Homo sapiens: one gene and its partner. The protein of the gene in region 1 interacts with the protein of each later gene in a pairwise test. Each region holds a gene or a part of one and is shown on either strand. Other genes may lie near its edges. The genes, in order: MKNK1 and EIF4G3.

The links.
Region 2: the proteins of MKNK1 (region 1) and EIF4G3 interact in a two-hybrid assay, tested with the Homo sapiens proteins (one large-scale study listed by BioGRID and IntAct).

Annotation. Positions count from the first base shown.
Region 1 is NC_000001.11:46,558,996-46,563,019, forward strand, and holds part of MKNK1 (MAP kinase-interacting serine/threonine-protein kinase 1), read right to left. Parts: exon of another isoform or gene 3,856-4,024; intron 3,849-3,855; coding exon 3,654-3,848; intron 2,679-3,653; coding exon of another isoform or gene 2,648-2,678; coding exon 2,483-2,647; intron 1,283-2,482; coding exon 1,239-1,282; intron 817-1,238; exon of another isoform or gene 675-816; intron 1-674. UniProt on the Homo sapiens protein: May play a role in the response to environmental stress and cytokines. Appears to regulate translation by phosphorylating EIF4E, thus increasing the affinity of this protein for the 7-methylguanosine-containing mRNA cap.
Region 2 is NC_000001.11:20,805,979-20,809,897, reverse strand, and holds the end of EIF4G3 (eukaryotic translation initiation factor 4 gamma 3), read left to right. Parts: intron 1-2,397; coding exon 2,398-2,579; 3' UTR 2,580-3,419; downstream 3,420-3,919. UniProt on the Homo sapiens protein: Component of the protein complex eIF4F, which is involved in the recognition of the mRNA cap, ATP-dependent unwinding of 5'-terminal secondary structure and recruitment of mRNA to the ribosome. Functional homolog of EIF4G1.

The DNA of each region.
Region 1 (4,024 bases):
CCCAAGTACCATCCCTGGACTTGATGGTAGGGGCAAGCTCCCCCTTCTCCTCAGAGCACCCTCCTCTGAGCTCCCACAACTCTACATACAGGTCTACCAGAGGCAGAGACTGGGCACATGAAACACACCTGTCCCTCCCTCTCCCAGCCTGCGTGGGGAAAAAGCTCCCAGAGCAAGGCCTGCGCCGCTTATGCCACGTCCCCAGCACCTAGCTCAGGGCTAGCGTGGACAGGCACTTTGGGTTTGCAGAATAAATCTTCTAAGGCGGATCTGAGGTTTGGCATCTAAAGGCATCTGGAGGCTGCTCTAGAGAGTCAGGTAGGAACCCAAATTGGGCAATAGCAACTGGGTCACACGAATTGCGATTATGGAGGTGTATGACTTCCTTGTGTAGCTCCTAAAAGCTGGCCATGAGGCTGGTGCCAAAAAGGTTTCCCACACTGCTTAGCCCTGGCTCTTTGGGAACAGGGCAGTCCAGCTGTAAAAGGGCTCCAGAGTCAAACAGCCCAGGGCTGCTGTGTGGCCTTAAGCAAGTTAACTTGATTGCCACTCCTCACCTCTCTCATCTAGAACACCTCTCTTAAATTCATCGTGAAGATTATGGATATAATTATATCCAGCCCTTAGCACCACGTCTGACATGTGGTAAGGACTTACTATTTTTTTTGAGACAGATGCTTGCTCTGTTGCCCAGGATGGAGTGCAGTGGCGTGATCGCAGCTCACTGCAACCTCCGTCTGCTGGATTCAAGCGATTCTCCTGCCTCAGCCTCCCAAGTAGCTGGCATTACAGCACCTGCCACCATGCCTGGCCATGGTAAGGACTTAATCCTGGTGGCCACTATTATCACTGTCCGTCTAGTACCGTACGTGCCCCTCACTTCTGCTCCTTTCATTAAATACAAGGGCAGAGGGAAGCCTTGTGTGAATAACCCATGGGTAAGGTCTGTCTTTGGGCTGTAAGTTACAGTTCAATGGGCAAAACAGGTTTTTTTTCCTGCCAACAGTGCTAGGAGGGGCCTTAAGGTGCTGGAGGGCAGAGGATCCAATCTAGGTGAAGGAAGGGAAGGGTGGGAGATAGATCCAGAGTAGAGGAAAAGAGAGTGAGGAGGGGAAATGGGCAGGGAGCCCCTTTGGAGAAAGCTACCTGAGCCTAGAGATGGGCTCCCCCGGCCCCCACCCCCATGGTGGCTGAGAGCTTGAGGAAGAGCATGGCGTGGGGGTGGTCAGAGCATTTACCTCTGGAGGACTTGCGGCGTGGGGAGTCCCTTTTCTGGAGCTTGCTAGAATGGGAAGGACAGATGTGTAGGTAAAGCACTGCTCCCTCCTTTCAAGAACTGCCCCACCCAAGCCAGCAGTGGGTAGGTTACTATAGGCTGCTGGCGCAGCACAGGGAAATGGCTATGCTTGCTTGCAGGGTCAGGCCTTCCAAGCAGAGAGCAAGAAAGGTACAATCTGCAGCCGCAGCCCCCAACATAGCTGCTTCTGCATGGAGAGCCCCTCTTTCCCTTTGCCTGGCAAAGTCCTAATCATCCCCCAGGACCCAGCTCAAGGGTCACTTCCCCTGTGACGCACATTTCCCCTTCCCTGCCACCTTCCTGCCTCAGTCTCAGGCCCGGGATGGGGAGTGGGGTCTTGCTCCCTTTGTGCCCCTAGCACTTTTCAGAAGCCTTTATCATGCTGTAACTTATCCCCTTGTCTACTTCTCTCCACTAGAGCACAGAGACAGGGACTGGGTCTCACTTGTCCCTCTGGCATGTGGCAGGTGCTCACTTATGGGTCTGGGAATGAGCCAGTTAGACACTCAAACTGGGTCCCCATCTGCAACATAGGATGGCAATGCTTGCCTCCTTCCACTGGTAGGGTCACTGAGGCTGGCCAGAGCCTGGCACACCAAGGAGACCAGAAAGTCATGGGAGCATCTGGCAGACCCCTTGGAGGGCAGAGGTCAGGTATTGTGAGTAGCCAAGGAGGATTTTTAAAAATGTTTTCTAGTGAAGACATGAATTCTAAGCTTAGGGAAAAAATACGATCATTTGCCTTTCAGGCCAGCTGTACCCAGACTCCCAGACCATGAGGAGAACCTATGTGCCCCAACTCGGCCACACAACAATCAGCGCAGCACGGCCTTGCTCACTTCTGGGTGTCCTCAGCTAATGATGCTTCTATATAAGAGGAGGATGCTACAGACTTCAAATGACAATAGGATGCTTGCGGGGCTGGGTGCATGTACCAAATCCCCAGAGGACTCTGTTGGGGCTTAGTCTGTGGCCAAGTTTACAGCCAACTCTATGGCCTATAAGGGGCTCAGTCTGGGGTAACAGGAGGAGTCGATTCACTCTACACACTCAGGGATAGACGCTGTCCTCTTCAGCTGCACCAGCCACAAGGCTGGTGCTCAGCACTTGCTGGCATGACAGCTTCCTTGTGGCCATGCCACAGGCCTGAAGTGGTGGAAAACACCCCTCCCTGGAGTCACTCACCCCCTGCACCCATGGGTGCTGCAGAACTTGGGCGGCGCTAAGTCTCTGCTTTGCATCTCGCACCAGGAGCTTGGAGATGAGGTCTTTGGCTTCACTGGAGATGTGTGCCCAGTCCTTGTCAGGAAACTCATACTTGCCTTCCTGGATGCTTTCAAACAGCTTGTTCTAGGTACAAAAGATTCCTCCTGAGGCCACACTGCCAGGGATGGGCAGGATGTGCCTGTCATTGTTTTGATCAACCGGCTTCAATTGATCTCAGCTGTAGCTGCAGCTCATGGCTTGGGGATGCCACAGACTGGGGCCTCTTCCCAGACTCACCCCGCACTGTCCCCTAGATGATCAAACTATATAGAATGCCCTTGGCAGGCCAGGATGGCTATGCCCTTGGTGGGCTGGATGGGTGATGAGTGGAGATCACCCATAGAACAAAGCCCAAATTCCTTGGCTCTTCCTAGAGGACTCTCTGTGAACCTCTCAGGCCTCATCTCCCACTACCACCGACCTACTACTCCACTCTTCCTTCCTAGACACTCCAGCTATTTCATGTGCCCACATCTATGCCCGTGCTGTTCCTTCTACTTGTGATTCTTGTCCCTCTTCCGCAGGGCAGGATGCACCCTTTAAGAGTCAGTTCAGGGCTGGGCGCGGTGGCTCACGCCTGTAATCCCAGCACTTTGGGAGGCCGAGGCGGGAGGATCACAAGGTCAGGAGATTGAGACCATCCTGGCTAACACGATGAAACCCCGTCTCTACTGAAAATATAAAAAATTAGCCAGACGTGGTGGCCGGCGCCTGTAGTCCCAGCTACTTGGGAGGCCTAAGGCAGGAGAATCGCTTGAACCCAGGAGGCAGAGGTTGCAGTGAGTCGAGATCGTGCCATTGCACTCCAGCCTGGGCGACAGAGAGAGACTCCATCTCAAAAAAAAAAAAAAAAAAAAAAAAAGAGTCAGTTCAGGCATGATCTTCTAACAATCCTGCCCTGAACTCCCAGCTGGGCGGAGTGTCTGATTATCTCTATTTTACCTTGTGGCCACCGTGACAGGAGCGGGAGAGGGCACTATGAGCCCCCATCCCGATCAGGAACGCTCTCCCAGCCCAGTCCTGCTTGGCATCCCCCAACCACACTGACCCCTAGCAGGGTCTACGCAGTGCTCCCTGGGGCCGCACTCACCTGGCACACCCTGCAGACCTCGCCCCGGTCCCAGCCACAGTCGGCCCCGCAGTGACCCACGAAGGGTGGGTAGCCACTCAGCATGATGTAGAGGACCACGCCCAGGCTCCACAGGTCACAGCGCTTGTCGTAGAATGTGGCCTGGTCCGTGAAGACCTCCACTACCTCAGGGGCCATGTATTCTGCAGAGCCACACTGTGGGGGCCAGGGTTGGGGGAGGGGGAGATGGCAGAGAACAGAGAGGCTTAGTTACAGCAGAGGGGATGGCAGAGAGCAGACTGTGATGGGACTGGAGCAGGAGGCTGGAAGGATGAGATACAGATCAGGAAGGCCAGCCAGTGAGCCGCCTGATGCCACCAAGGCATCTGCAG
Region 2 (3,919 bases), about 26 Mb from region 1:
CAGGCCTAATAAAACTTTCCACAGTGATGGTAGTATATATCCATACCATTGAGTATGGTAATCATGAGCCACATGTGGCAATTCTATACTTAAATATGTCTGTTGTGACTTAGGAACTGAATTATTGACTTTAAATTTAAATAACCATGTTTGACTAATAGCTTCCATATTGGACAACACAGGTCTAGGGCATGAAAATGGTTAATGATGTTGAGGATGATACTCTAGAATCTTTAGACACCCAACAAAGACCCTAAGTGTAGTGTATTTACCATGCTATATTTACTAAGGAGTTTCAGAATAGTTTTTAGTTAAGGGTTATGATTAATTCTTGGCTAATGAAACAAAGTAACCTGTACACTTAAGTCTTAGTGATACTTGGTGTTAACTAATGATTTTTATTACATCTTGAAAATTCAGTTGGTATTTGTTAAAGCGGGCAGTACATAGCTATTAGAGAGAGCACTCAAGTAGTTCTTTGGTACTTCCTTATTTTCGCTTTTGTAAAATTCCTTCTTTCCTAGTCCTGAATCGCTCTTGGAGATAAAGGAAAAGATGAAAGCAAATTATCCTTATAGTGTAACTGAAGAGACAATCTACCATGAATCAGATAATTTGATAATATTAGCTTAACTAATATAATTACAAAGATAAGTCTTTTTAAAAAAAGGCCGAGGCATGCAGATCACCCGAGGTCAGGAGTTTGAGACCAGCCTGGCCAACATGGTGAAACCCCGTCTCTACTAAAACTACAAAATTAGCTGGGCGTGGTGGCGCATGCCTGTAATCCCAGCTACTTGGGAGGCTGAGGCAGGAGAATCACTTGAACCCATGAGGCGGTGGTTGCAATGAGCCGAGATCATGCCACTGCACTCCAGCCTGGGCAAAAAGAGCAAAACTCCATTTAAAAAAAAAAAAGTTAATACGACTCATGATAAACCTAATATTGATTAGCATTTATTGTTTATTCCACTGCCTCCCTCCATTAATATAAATGATCGGAGAGCTGACTATAATAACTATAAGCTAATAACTTATTATATATGATAACTATAATTCTCAGTTTTACTATGAGAGTAAAACCGAGAATTAAAATCACACGGATAGTTTGGACGTTTAAAACAGTAAATAACAGGTGTAGTTTCACTGGATAAAATCCAGATGAGATAGCTTTTACTCATGTTTTCCATGTGAATGATCACCTCTTGTTCTTTTTTGAGACGGACTCTCGCTCTGTCACCCAGGCTGGAGTGCAGTGATGCAATCTCAGCTCACTGCAAGCTCCGCCTGCCGGGTTCACGCCATTCTCCTGTCTCAGCCTCCCTAGTAGCTGAGACTACAGGCACCCGCCACCATGCCCGGCTAATTTTTTGTATGTTTAGTAGAGACGGGGTTTCACTGTGTTAGCCAGGATGGTCTCGATCTCCTGACCTCGTGATCCGCCTGTCTCGGCCTCCCAAAGTGCTAGGATTAAAGGTGTGAGCCACCGCGCCCGGCCACCTCTTCATTTTTAAAACAACATTACAAGGAATAAAAAGCATATCCTGCCTTTCTCCCTTCCCCCAAATTTTGTAAAAATAATACAGTAAACTTGCAGCGCAGAAAATAGTAAAAAGAAAGTAAAAAACTACTCGTATTTAAATTTTATAGGGTTTAGATTGAGATAAACATGATATGAAACAGCTTCACTGGTATCAGAAGATAGTTCAGATTGGGCCGGGCACGGTGGCTCACGCCTGTAATCCCAGCACTTTGGGAGGCCAAGATGAGCGGATCACCTGAGGTCAGGAGTTCGAGACCAGCCTGGCCAACATGGTGAAATCCCTTCTCTACTTAAAATACAAAAATTAGCTGACTGTGGTGGCCGGCGCCTGTAATCCCAGGTACTTGGGAGGCTGAGGCAGGAAAATTGCTTCAACCCAGGCAGGCGCCTGTAATCCCAGGTACTTGAGAGGCTGAGGCAGGAAAAATTGCTTAAACCCAGGCAGGCGCCTATAATCCCAGGTACTTAGGAGGCTGAGGCAGGAAAATTGCTTAAACCCAGGAGGTAGAGGTTGCAGTGAGCCAAGATCGCACCACTGCACTCCAGCCTGGGGACAGAACAAGATTGTCTCTCAAAAAAAAAAAAAAAAAAAAAAAAAACAGAAAAAAAGTTCAAATTGTACAAAATAATAGGAATAAAAAAGAATTTAGACTGCTTCAATCTTTTTTTCCTCTTCTTTAAACAAGTTGTTGGGCTGTTTATACTGTCAAGAGCAAGTATGGTGAATTGTCATTATTGCTTTTTTCTGGGGGAATTAATGCACATTTATTCAGTCATTCATTATTTTGAAATATATTCTTTTCCTCATAACTACAGTGTCCCAAAGCTTATAGTTTATTTTCACCTCCTTGCAGATTTGCTGCGGATGTTTTTTGATTGTCTATATGACGAGGAGGTGATCTCCGAGGATGCCTTCTACAAATGGGAGAGCAGCAAGGACCCTGCAGAGCAGAATGGGAAGGGCGTGGCTCTGAAATCTGTCACGGCATTCTTCACGTGGCTGCGGGAAGCAGAAGAGGAGTCTGAGGATAACTAAAACTTCAAATACACAAAATGAAACAAAAGAAACAATTTAAGTATTTTTTTAAAAAGTTTCACGTCTTCGCCAATCACAGTGCAGCAAGGCCAATTCTCGCAGAAACCCCCACGTGTGCACGAGTGGGAGAGGGGAAAGAGAAAAAAAGGTGATCATGGAGGAAAAAGGTACTGGATAAAAGTAAACTTCAAACCTTAGGGCGGGAGCACTAAAACCAAAATACATGTATTATTTATAGAAAATATTTTCTGTTTTAATCTTTTCTTTTTAAACAAGGACTCATACTTAAAAAAATGTTTAGCAAAAAAAAAAAAAGTTGAGAACTTTTAATTTATTTTAAGGACTGCAAATGCCAGTGTAATTTTTTAATTTGCAGTTTCTGTAAACAACTTGTATAATAGAAAAGCAGAGAAATAAATTTCCCTCCCCTTCAAGATGCACCTCATGTTTGTTTTAAGGTATAGCATTTAGTCCAGATTTGAGAAAGTTTGGGGTGAACAAGGTAAGAAAGATTTTTTTTTTTTTGGCATCAAATCTTTCTGCCTGCCTCTCAGCTTGCTTCAGAAAATTTAAAAAATCACAATAGTAATCAAAACATACATAACATTGAAACAGAAGGAAATGCTGTGGACCACAGAACTCCAAGAATTGTTTAAAAAAAAAAAAGTGCTACCCTGAGAAAAGTACTCTTAATACTCTTGAAATCTTTAGAGCAACTTTAAGGCTTGTAAATACATAGAACAAATATTTAAAAAAACAAAAAGAAATTGACTCAGTACTATTTCTTTTCACTTTGAAAATATAAAGAACAAAATAAAGACAAACATTGCAAGTTTAAAAGAAAGTAAAGTGACTTCTCCTTTGGACAGCTGCTGCATGTGTGCCCATTCCTGGGGGTGCTGTCTGGCTATTTATTGTCTAATTCAAATCACTCCTGAGGGGAGAGAGATAAAACGAGAGAGAGTGAGAGAGTGTGTGTATGTGCGTGTATGCGCACGTATGTGCATGCACATGTATGTATGTATATGTCTCTACTCACTGAAAAGGCAAGCTACTTTGTGGGTAAGGAGGGCACTTGTGCTTGGGTGGGAATGCCCCACTGGGAGTCCAGTGAAACTTGTTTCCAACACTAACTAAAAATGCATTCAGGACAGTAGGCCTCAAGGGCAGTCCTTTAGATAACTAAGTTTTCCACTCTGTGTATCAGGACTCAGGACAATAATTCACTTTGAGACTGCCACTACCACTGATTTTAAAATCTTCCATCAATTGCCTGCAATGCTTAAGAAACCCAAAGATGTCCTCTAAAGAATGAATAAAACCAAAAGCTATATTATGCT